Regions from separate parts of the Homo sapiens genome. Here region 1 is linked to region 2. The links come from fine-mapping of genetic effects on gene expression. A gene starts in region 2. The other region holds a variant in brackets. All regions are shown on one strand. Distances are from middle to middle. Region 1 overlaps SPRING1 (SREBF pathway regulator in golgi 1). Region 2 holds the start of SPRING1 (SREBF pathway regulator in golgi 1).

What was found.
Region 1: its variant is fine-mapped to the expression of SPRING1 in esophagus mucosa (GTEx, PIP 0.92).

What each region holds. Positions count from the first base shown.
Region 1 is chr12:116,710,032-116,715,407 of GRCh38, forward strand. SPRING1 (SREBF pathway regulator in golgi 1) reads right to left here. Exons shown (of 5, transcript NM_024738.4): 5 at 140-5,376. Among named protein-coding and RNA genes, the nearest start is that of SPRING1, 25 kb to the right of the region's middle. The variant T/C (reference allele first, on the strand shown) is at 2,764.
Region 2 is chr12:116,735,175-116,740,511 of GRCh38, forward strand. SPRING1 (SREBF pathway regulator in golgi 1) reads right to left here and starts at 2,895. Exons shown (of 5, transcript NM_024738.4): 1 at 2,616-2,895. The coding sequence starts at 2,726. It overlaps RNFT2 (ring finger protein, transmembrane 2), which reads left to right and starts at 3,141. Exons shown (of 11, transcript NM_001382266.1): 1 at 3,141-3,196; 2 at 5,171-5,337. The coding sequence starts at 5,324. RefSeq lists enhancers at 1,437-2,395, 3,164-3,423 and silencers at 2,584-2,633, 2,714-2,973.

The DNA of each region.
Region 1 (5,376 bases), 25 kb before region 2:
TCCTGTGCAATTATGAAAGGGTTTTAACCTCTAACTGGGCTTCAATCTTCCAGGCAGGATGATAGAAGTGGAAAGTGCGCTTGCCTGCTCTGCAAATGAATTCGCTATCATTGGATTAAATCAATCTAACAGGAGCTAATTATTTTAAAATAATATGGACAGCAGGGTCCTACCTTTATTTACATACAAATACAAAATCCACGTTTATATACAAAATACAGGCAAAACGCTCCAGCGGAACTTTAATTAGTGGTTATCTCTAGGGGCTGGGAATCTAATTTGGCACAATTTAATTTCTTTGTAAGTTCATACATTTTAAGGTTTCTGCCTGGTAATCACAAAAGCAGAGAAAGGAAAACCTTTTACTGAGCTGAGCAATGCCTGTAGAAGCCCTGCTTAGTAGGAGTTCCAAGATGCTCTGTGTATCTCAGGTGAAGCACACCTAAATAATTGAGCACTGCATTAAGGCTCAGAAACGTAGTACCGTTGTGTGCTTCTCTGCCAAAAGGCAGCTATTTTTATGACAGAAAACACAGCAGCTGTTTTCACAGGTGCAGGGCAGCAGTACATGGGAAGTTGGTCCCAGCAGAGAAGGATATGGTGTCTCTTTAAAACTGGAGGAGGAAGAGGCAGAAAATGGTGAGCCCCAGTTGAAATCTGCAAGAGAGAAGGAGGAAGCCCTGGTTTGGAGAAAAACGGGCTCCAGATGGCTGGGCTACATTTGTCCTGTGAAAATCAAAAGCCTGGGACCCAGCCGCTGGGATACGAGGGCTCTGGTCTTGCTTTAACAGCCAGGGGGACTTTTGGCTTGTTACAAAAATTGGAATTTGGATCTGCAAGATACGCTAGCCATCACCCTTAATTGACAAATGAGGAAACCAAAGCCGGAGAGGGTAATTTACTCAAGGTCATTAAGGTCAGTGCTCTTGTCAATAAAATTAGGATATTGCTCACATACTTCATACTGCTTTTGTTACACACACACACACACACACACGCACACACAGAGCCAATGTATGGAAACATCCCTGAGAATATATAATGTCATCACATTTACTATTCAAATTAGCATCAACTGGTCAAATATTTATTCAGGTAGTAACTTACTCAACATTTCTATCTTGACATCCCCCAGTACAACTTAATACAATGCCCCAATCCCCACAGGACAGGACAACACTCTCTCTCGCTCTCTCTCTTCCTTAAGAATAGTGAGATGTGGCCAGGCGCGGTGGCTCACTCCTGTAATCCCAGCACTTTGGGAGGCCGAGGTGGGCGGATCACGAGGTCAGGAGATCGAGACCATCCTGGCTACTAACACGGTGAAACCCCGTCTCTACTAAAAATACAAAAATTAGCTGGGCACGGTGGCGGGCGCCTGTAGTCCCAGCTACTCGGGAGGCTGAGGCAGGAGAATGGCGTGAACCCAGGAGGCAGAGCTTGCAGCGAGCCCAGATCGTGCCACTGCACTCCAGCCTGGGCGATGGAACGAGAATCCGTTTCAAAAAAAAAAGAATAGTGAGATGTGACCAACATAGCCTGGAATCTTAAATTACTGATAATGGTGATTTCTCATTTAGACAACACTTTTTTCCCCTCCTCAGACAGGGTCTCACTCTGTGGCCCAGGTTGGAGCACACTGGCGCAATGACGGCTCACTGCAGCCTTGACCTCCTGGACTCAAGCCATCCTCCCGCCTCAGCCTCCTGAGTAGCTGGGACTACAGGTGTGCACTACCATGCCTGGCTCCTTTTTTTTATTTTTTGTAGAGACAGGGTCTCCCTATGTTGCTCAGGCTGGTCTCGAATTCTGGGCTCAAGCAATCCTCTCACCTTGGCCTCCCAAAGTGCTGGGATTACAGGTGTGAGCCACCACACCCGGCTGCCAACACCACTTTCGATTTTGGGATAATCTGGGTGCACAGTGATCAGAAGCTTACCTACCCCACGTTGCATAAAAAAAAGTATGAATTTAAAAATTCCAAGAGTAAACTACCCTATGAAAACCTCTGGCAGTGCTGATGAAAACACATTTCTGGTAGTGATATGTCTTGGTCCCTCTGGTCTCACAGAATGTGTAGTCCTGAGAAAAAATAAACCTGGACTCTTGGTAAAATATTTGAATAATTAACTGCTTTGCTCATTGGTTGTAACTGGCAAGTCATTCTCTTTACTACATTAAAGTCTGCACTTTCATTTTACAGACAGTCCTACAGTTCAACTCCAACATCAGGGACTGAGTCGTACACAGGAAGATCACTGAGTAGGTTCTGTGGAGACGCAGTCGGCCCATATGCACGTCACCACTCGGCTCCCAGCTCAGGTGCAGACCAACGGCGACCACTTGCTCCACTTTGCTCTGTGACAGCAGACGAGGTAAGGCATGTTGCAGATACATGCTGAATATAGGGATGCCTGTACACAAAACTGCACTCATGCTGTGATAACACGCAAAAGGTCACACACTGGAAGAGCCTTGCCCAACGAACGATAGACTAACAGGCCAGAGGCGGGGAAAGCTTCTCGGAGTCCCACTATCTTCTTTGTTTTTATTGCTCCTACTTACTTATGTGATACCTTTTTAGTAGAATGACTAGTTTTCTAAACAGAACCTGTAATGACAGGCTCACATTTCTTCCTCAACTCCCACCTCCAAAGCCACTCCATTCAAAGAACTGCTGGTGAGGTGCTGGGGAGTCAATCCGTCGTAGAGGGGAAGCGTTCTACCCCTCCAGATCCTTCTGCAGACAGGAGGGTGTCTGCA[T/C]TCGGCGGAGTCCAAGAGTGCGGTGAGGACACAGTGGCAAAGGAATAATGCCATTCCTTGAGGCAGCGCTGGGCTAGTAGAGACCTGTGAGGAAGTAATGTGTCCTGTGGGGATTTCAGGGTAATTTAATCAGCAGCACTTCAGCAGGGTAGAAAGCAAGGGCGGGGAAAAATAATGAAGTCAGCACTCAGCTACCAGGAGCTCCTCTGTTCAATCTAACGGGGAGATATGACCCCAGAGCAGGGCTTCCCTCCCTCCACCCGGCTCCCACTTCCAGCCAGGTAATTCTGTGTCGTGGGGGCTGTTGGGCACCATCCCTGGCCTCCCTCCACGAGTGCCCACAGTACTGCCCTCCTCCCCACCTGTGACAAAAATGTCTCCAGACATTGCCAAATGTTCCCTGGGGGGCAAAATTGCCCCTGTTGAGCACCACTGCCCTAGATGAACTGGAAAAGTTGGTTTGTGAATATGTGAGCTTAGTTGTTTCTAACACAGGGCTGAAAAACAAGAGAAGGGGACAAAGGCTGCTTTCATATAAAAATGTACTGTAGTAATCAGTAAGAAAAAGAAACAACATTGGCTAAGTCACGAATAGGCATTTCACCATATGTACATGATAAATGGCCAATCAAAATAAGGAATGGGGCTCATTCTGCTGGAAATTAAATACATTCAAACAAGAACAGAGATCCATTAGCAAAATGTTTAAAAATAATATCACAGGGTTACCAGGGGTATGACAAAAATGGACACTTCCATACACACTAGGTGAATATATTGGTGAAAATAGTTCAGATAAACATACAACCATGTATGTAAAAGTATTTATCATCAATGCATTATTTGTAGTAGCAAAAACAACAAGCAGCCTTGGAAACCAGTTAATGTCCTCAGCAGGGAATTAATAATATTATTGTATATTCATGAAATTGACACCATGTGGCCACACAAATGCATTACACAGGCCTCTATGTAACATAGGATATTCATTAGAGAATTGTTTTTCAAGAGGACAAAGTACTTTCATTTTTGCCTAGAAAATGGGGGAAGACAAAAATGCGCTTCTCTCTAGGTTGTGTGATTTTAGGTTATCCTAAGTTTCATCCTTACGTGCTCCTGAATTATCTGAAATATCGTATCTTTAAAAACAGTAACAACAATAGTAACAAGAGCTCTGTAATTCCTACCCTTCCAACCTCAGGAGCCCACCCACCCCTATCCGAGCCGACCCCTGACTGCCCCTGCCATTGCTCCCTGCTGAGTTGCAGACATTGACTTCTTGCCAAGCCTCAGGCCTTGCTCACATCGACACCTCACAGTGACCCTGAGAGGCAGATGCTGTGACCCCATTTCACAGATGAAGGGCCTGAGCCACAGAGGAGGAAGACTGCCTCAGCCACGCCGCTAGTAAGTGGTAGTTCCCAACTCTAGAGTCCCAAAAGAATTCTGTCCTACTTATGAAAAGTATATCCAATAAGCAGTACCTCCCTGTGTTTACAACTTATCTGCTGATCCCAAGGATGGGAAAAGCTGCACTCAGAAACTTGCAAATTGTGCAACTGTTCCCCACGATTCCCTTGGGGCCAGTGCCGACTGAGGCATCTCCAGGAGGCCCCAGTTGGGCTTGGGGACATGCTGAGAGGTGACAGCACTGCTCTCAAGTCATATCCTCTGCTTCTGCAAAAGCTGTGGAGCTCACCCATCAATAGCAGCTCCATGCCGGGCGCAGTGGCTCACGCCTGTAATCCCAGCACTTTCGGAGGCTCAGGCGGGCAGATCATCTGAGGTCAGGAGTCCGTGACCAGCCTGGCCAACATGGTGAAACCCCGTCTCTACTAAAAGTACAAAAACTTAGCTGGGTGTGGTGGTGTACGCCTGTGATCCCAGCTACTCAGGAGGCTGAGGCAGGAGAATTGCTTGAACCCAGGAGGGGGAGGTTGCAGTGAGCTGAGATCACGCCATTGCACTCCAGCCTGAGCAACAGAGCAAGACTCCATCGCAAAAAAAAAAAAAAAAAAAAAAGGCTCTAGCATTGCCAGATCCCAGGCCCTGTGGAAGGTATTTCCCTCCCTCTTTTGTCCTTGCTTGTCTCAGAGCCCTTTTCACAGTCTCTTGTGTGCTTCTTTCCCTGTTAGGACCAATCTTTACAACTCCAGCAAGCGCAGCAAATAAGATGCAGAACTGGGGGAGATGCAACGTATGACTCAATTCCCTTGAGCCGAAAACACTCACTTATTAACAATATTTTTTTCTTTTTTTTGAGACAGAGTCTCACAAAAACAGGCACACGCCCCCACACCCGGCTAATTTTTGTATTTTTAGTATAGATGGGGTTTCACCATATTGGTCAGGCTGGTCTGAACTCCTGCCTTCAGGTGATCCACCTGCCTCAGCCTTCCAAAGTGCTGGGATTACAGGCATAAGCCACCACGCCCCACCAATGAAATGTTTTCTAAAGGTGTTTTCATCCCTTTTGTGATCTCCTAAACTCCCAAGGTGTATCACACACTTCGCTGGGCTCTGGGCAAACAAAACTTAGACAAGGTCCCTGATTCTAGAAACCCTCGGTCGAGGGAACCACAAACCAACCAGAGTGGAGGGCAGGGAGAGGTC
Region 2 (5,337 bases):
CACTGAGCGAGACTGGGAAGACTCGGGGAGGAACAAGTGCTGGCAGAGAATCAAGAGTTCTGTTGGTCCAAACACGAACACATTCAACGTCAACTAGAAAGTAGGAGGGTGGTTGCCGGGGGCTGGGGAAAGGGAGAAATGGAGAGTTATTGTTAAATGAATATTAAGTTTCAGTTTCTACAAGCGTTATGGGGATGGATGGTGGTGATGGTCGCACAGCGTTAAGGATGTATTTAATACCACTGAACTGCACACTTTAAAAATGGTTAAGATGGGGCCGGGCGTGGTGGCTGACACCTGTAATCCCAGCACTTTGGGAGGCCGAGGCAGGTGGATCACTTGAGGTCAGGAGTTCGAGACCAGCCTGGCCAACATGGCGAAACCCTGTCTCTATTAAAAATACAAAAATTAGTCGGGTGTGGTGGTGCATGCCTGTAATCCCAGCTACTCAGGAGGCTAAGGCAGGGAGAACTGCTTGAACCCGAGAGGTAGAGGTTGCAGTGAGCTGAGATCATGCCACTACACTCCAGCCTGGGTAACAGAGTGAGACTCCATGTTAAAAAAGGTTAAGATGGGAAATTCTGGCCAGGCGTGGTGGCTCACACCTGTAATCCCAGCACTTTGGGAGGCTGAGGTGGGTGGATCACCTGAGGTCGGGAGTTCAAGACCAGCCATGACCAACATGGAGAAACCCCGTTTCTACTAAAAATACAAAATTAGCTGGGCATGGTGGCGCATGCCTGTAATCCCAGCTACTCAAGAAGGCTGAGGCAGGAGAATCATTTGAACCCGGGAGGTGGAGGCTGTGGTGAGTTGAGGTCGTCCCACTGCACTCCAGCCTGGGCAAGAGCAAAACTCAGTCTTTAAAAAAAAAAAAAAAAAAAAAAAAAAAAGATGGGAAATTTTATGTCGTATTTTACCACAATAAAAAAAAATTGAAAAAAAAAAAAGATATCAACTAGGCAATTGGATATAAGAATTTGGGGATTTCTGGACAGATCTAGGCTGTTGTTATCAACTACTGGCATCAACAGCATACCTCCAGAGATCACCTGAGTATTTAAACAATGGCCCAGAGATTACCTGAGTCAGATAGAGAGGAAGGCAGAGGACGGAGTCCTGGCGCACCCCACCACTCAGGGGTCACAAGACAGAGAAGGGACAACACGCGACTGTGAGGAGGTGTCTGAGGTGGCAGAAAACACAAGTCACAGAAGTCTGGTAGTCACATGATTGCCCAGACATCCCGGCCAATAAAAGGGACTTACAACACTCAGCCTCTCTGTTTGCCTAAGGTGGCAGGTCACGTACAATTCCCTATTCTTCCCTTTTCACAGCTCCCCTGCCAATCCACTAAATGTAGAGTGACCACATAGTTTTATCAATGTTCTATTCACTTATATATTTTATTTACACACTTGAGCTTTGAGAGTAAAAAGGAGAGCTTTTTATAACCATGTCAGGACAACAGCATAACCCATTATCCTGGGTGCACCCTGGGGTGTAACCACCCTTTCTACACAACTAAGCACTCAACCTGGACTTCTAGACAAACTTATTAATGCTTTGGGTAAGATTTCCCCACCCGTGCTCCTTGCTGTTTCTCCCAGAAATTCTCACATGGAAGAAAAATGAAAGGGTGCAGTGTGTTGGAGGGGTGGAATTCTACCAATCAAGTTATGCACAAAAAGCATAAAAGGAACTGTGGGTCCTTTTGAGTCACCCAGGAGGACACAGAGCCCCCAAATTAAACGAAGGGCACCCATGCGAGGGCTGGCCGACCCTCGCCACCTATGTCTTGGTTTCCCCCACTGTAATACTGGGAACCCCACTTCTCCCAGGCCTGCTGCGAAGATGAAGCCAGCAAATGCACGCCCTCTCTTAGCTCTGGACCGGGCAGGTGAAAAGCAGGGAGGTGTTCATAAAAGCAGTCCCCACCGCTGAAGGGTCCTCAACTCGGGGTTCTAGTCCCAGCTCTGCCCTGGCCTAGCAACCCCTTCCCGCTGCAGGGACCAAGGCGGTGGGCAGGTCCCTCACCCGTGCTGAGACCGGGACAGGAATGCGCACCTCTCCCCACCCTCGGACGCCCCGGCGGCGCCGCTGCAGAAGTCGGGAGGTCGGACAAACGCGAGGAGTAAGGAAAAAGAGGAGGAAGGGAAGGAAGGAGGAAGAACGAAGTGAGGAAAGAGGATGTCAGGGAAGAAAGGGAGTAAAGGAAGAAGGAAGGGAGAGGGGGACAGAAAGGAGGAGGACGGAAGGAGGAAGGGAAGGAAGAAAGACGGAAGGGAAGGGAGAGGAAAAAGGGGAGGAAAGAAGAAAGGGAAGGGGGAGGAAGGAAAGGGGGAGGAAGGAAGGAGGAGGAAGGTGAGGAAGGTAAGGAAGGAAGGGAGGCAGGGAGAGGGGAAGGAAGGAGGAAGATAAGGAAGGAGGGGAGGTAGGAAGAAGGGAAGGAAGGAGGAAGGAAGGGAAGGGGAGAAAGAAAGGAAGGGAAGGGGTAGGAAGACAGGGAGGAAGGAAAAAAGGAGGAAGGTAACGAAGGAAGGAAGGAGAAAGTAAAGTAAGGGGGAGGAAGGAAGGAAGAAGGGAAGGGGAGGAGGGGAAGGGCGGCCACTGACCTGCTTGAAGGTGCTGCTGAGGAAGTAGACGAGCGACAGCCCGAAGACCAGGGCGAGCACCCACCTCTTCCGCAGAAGCCGGCGCCACACCATGGCCGCCAGGTTCACCATCCCGGCGCGGACGTGGGGCGCGGCGGCCGGGGCGCGGAACGCGGCAGGCCCGGGTCCCGGGCGGCATGGCCCCTACGCGCCCGGCAGCCCCATCCCTCCAGGCAGGCGCCGGCCCCGCCGCCCGCAGCCCAGTCTGCTCCCGGCAGCCTTGGGCGCAGCCCCACGTGACCCCGCCCTACGCCCCGCCTCCGCTCCGCAGCGACAAGGGCTAGTCGCGCAAGATCTTCTCACCATTGGTCCCTAAGGAACGGCGGCCTCCTATTGGTTAAGTGCCGGGAAAGGGGGCGGACAATCGCGTGAGTGCTGCGGGCGTAGCTGTGCCCGGGTCCTAGCGCCGGACCCGGCGACGCCAAGAAACCACCCAATAGGAGGCCGGAAGCATCGGAAGTCACATGCTGCCCAGGCTGCGCGGGTGATTGGCTTGGCTGGACCTGAATGATGCGGCTGTGATTGCTGAATTGTCTGGGCAGGTAAAAAGAGAACGCGATTTTTTTTTCTTTTCTCCCATCATGGTCTGTGTAGTCTCCTGCCCTTGCAGTCCCAGAGCGTTTTGCGCTGTGTGTTGGTTGCAGGGATGAAAAGCGCTCGCGACGTTGTTCCCGAAGTGCACCTGCCGGCTTCCAGTCCAAGTGATGCAGGCGATGCTCCTCTGAGTGCATTTCGGTGCAGTCCTGTAACGGGCCCCAGGGGCGCAACTTGAACCATCGCAAGCATCGAAAAGTCTCGGTGCGGTCCTTCAAAGGGACATAGTGGGATGTACAGAGCAGAGGATTAAAAAGCGTTTCATTCATTCAGATGCATCCCGCGTGCAAAAATTTATTCCAGAATTATGTACGGCCTGCTTCCGACAAAGAATCCGAAGCCTCTTCCAATACAAGCATCCGAAAGTAGAGTTTCGAGCATTCGATTTAGGAGTTAAATGTGTGGATGAGAACTTTGGAATATGAATTTTATTTTCCCCCAAGGATTTGCAATGTGGGATAATGGAGGGAGGGGCGAGAGGAGGATTAAGTTGAGATTGCAAATTCTTGAAAAATATTTATATAATGACCTTTTCTTGATATATGAAGATGCTGCTGCTGACCGGTTTGTTACCTAATTTTTCAAAAGAGAAAGGAGGCTTCACTGGCGGGTCATTTTTAATCAGTGGCCCTAGTGACACCATTGCTGCCCCCTCAAGAAGCCTGGTCAGGATTAGGAAGTCATTCAACAGCCAATAATCGTGCCCTAAACTGAAGTCAGACACCATCTGACTGATATAGACACCCTATATCCACAATATTGGCTCTGCCTCCAGAGACAAGAAGATATTCACGGAGGCTAAACCTTTTCATGGGAAGTAGATGGCCCTTATTACCTTGCTAGGGTGAAAGGTGGGACAGGGAGCAAGGGATCTAGAAAAGGGGAACTGGGAGACCCATAGATGTTTTATTCATTGAGTAAATACTTGTTGAGCGCCACTCTGTGCCAAACAGTGTCCTGGATGCTGAGGCAGAGGGGTGATCCAAGTAGACAGGATCCCTACTTTCAGGAATGGCATTTATATTCTAATGGGGAGGACAAATCATAAATAAATAAGCAAACATGAACAAATAAGTGCTATGAATAATATAAAACAGGGCAATATTACGGGGAGTCAGGAGAATGAGAAGAGAAGGCCTCTGGGAAGAGACGACATTTGCCCTGCGGGACCAAGCCCTGCCACATTTAGAGGAGAAAGTATTCCAAGGGGAGGGCACAGCAAGTGCAAAGGCCCTGAGGCAGGGACACGCTGACACATTAGAGGAACAGAAGGGCCACTGTGGGTGGACAGGAGTGGGAAAAGGGAGAATGGGAGGAAATGCAGTTGGAAACAGATGATGCTACATCAGGAAGAACCCGTAGGCTATGGACAGAGCTCGGGTTTGATTCTGATTGCACTGGGCAGCCGTTGGAGGGTTTAAAACATATTTTCTGGCTTCCCCAATCAGGACTCTTAGTTTGACAATAGGATGAAATACAATACCTTAAGAGTTTCAAAGAGGGCCGGGCATGGTGGCTTATGCCTGTAATCCCAGCACTTTGGGAGGCCAAGGCAGGCGGATCACTTGAGGTCAGAAGTTTGAGACCAGCCTGGCCAATATGGTGAAATCCCATCTCTACTAAAAATACAAAAATTGGGTGGGCGTGGTGTCGCATGCCTGTAAGCCTGTAATTTCAGCCACTCAGGAGGCTGAGGCAGGAGAATCGCTTGAACCTGGGAGGCAGAGGTTGCAGTGAGCCAAGATCGCACCACTCCGTCTTAAAAAAAAAAAAGGAGTTTCAAGGGGGGATCACTGAGAGGCTACCCAGAGATACTGAGCAGATGGAATCATCTGCTTATAGCTACCAACAATGTCCTAAGGCTTCTTAGCAGATTCAAGGTATCGCAGGGACTGTTCATCCAGGTGTTCTGTTCCATCCAGGTTTGGAGTCTCTGGCAAGCTCCCCTGACTGTGCATCCCTCTGGAGACGAAGAGGAGGGGGAGGCCTGTCCTCTCTGGGATCCATTGGTCACATCCCCCTGAGGATTCCCGAATGCCTACCTCCAGTGTCGTCAACATGGAGTTCTGAAGTCCATGTGGCTCTTCAC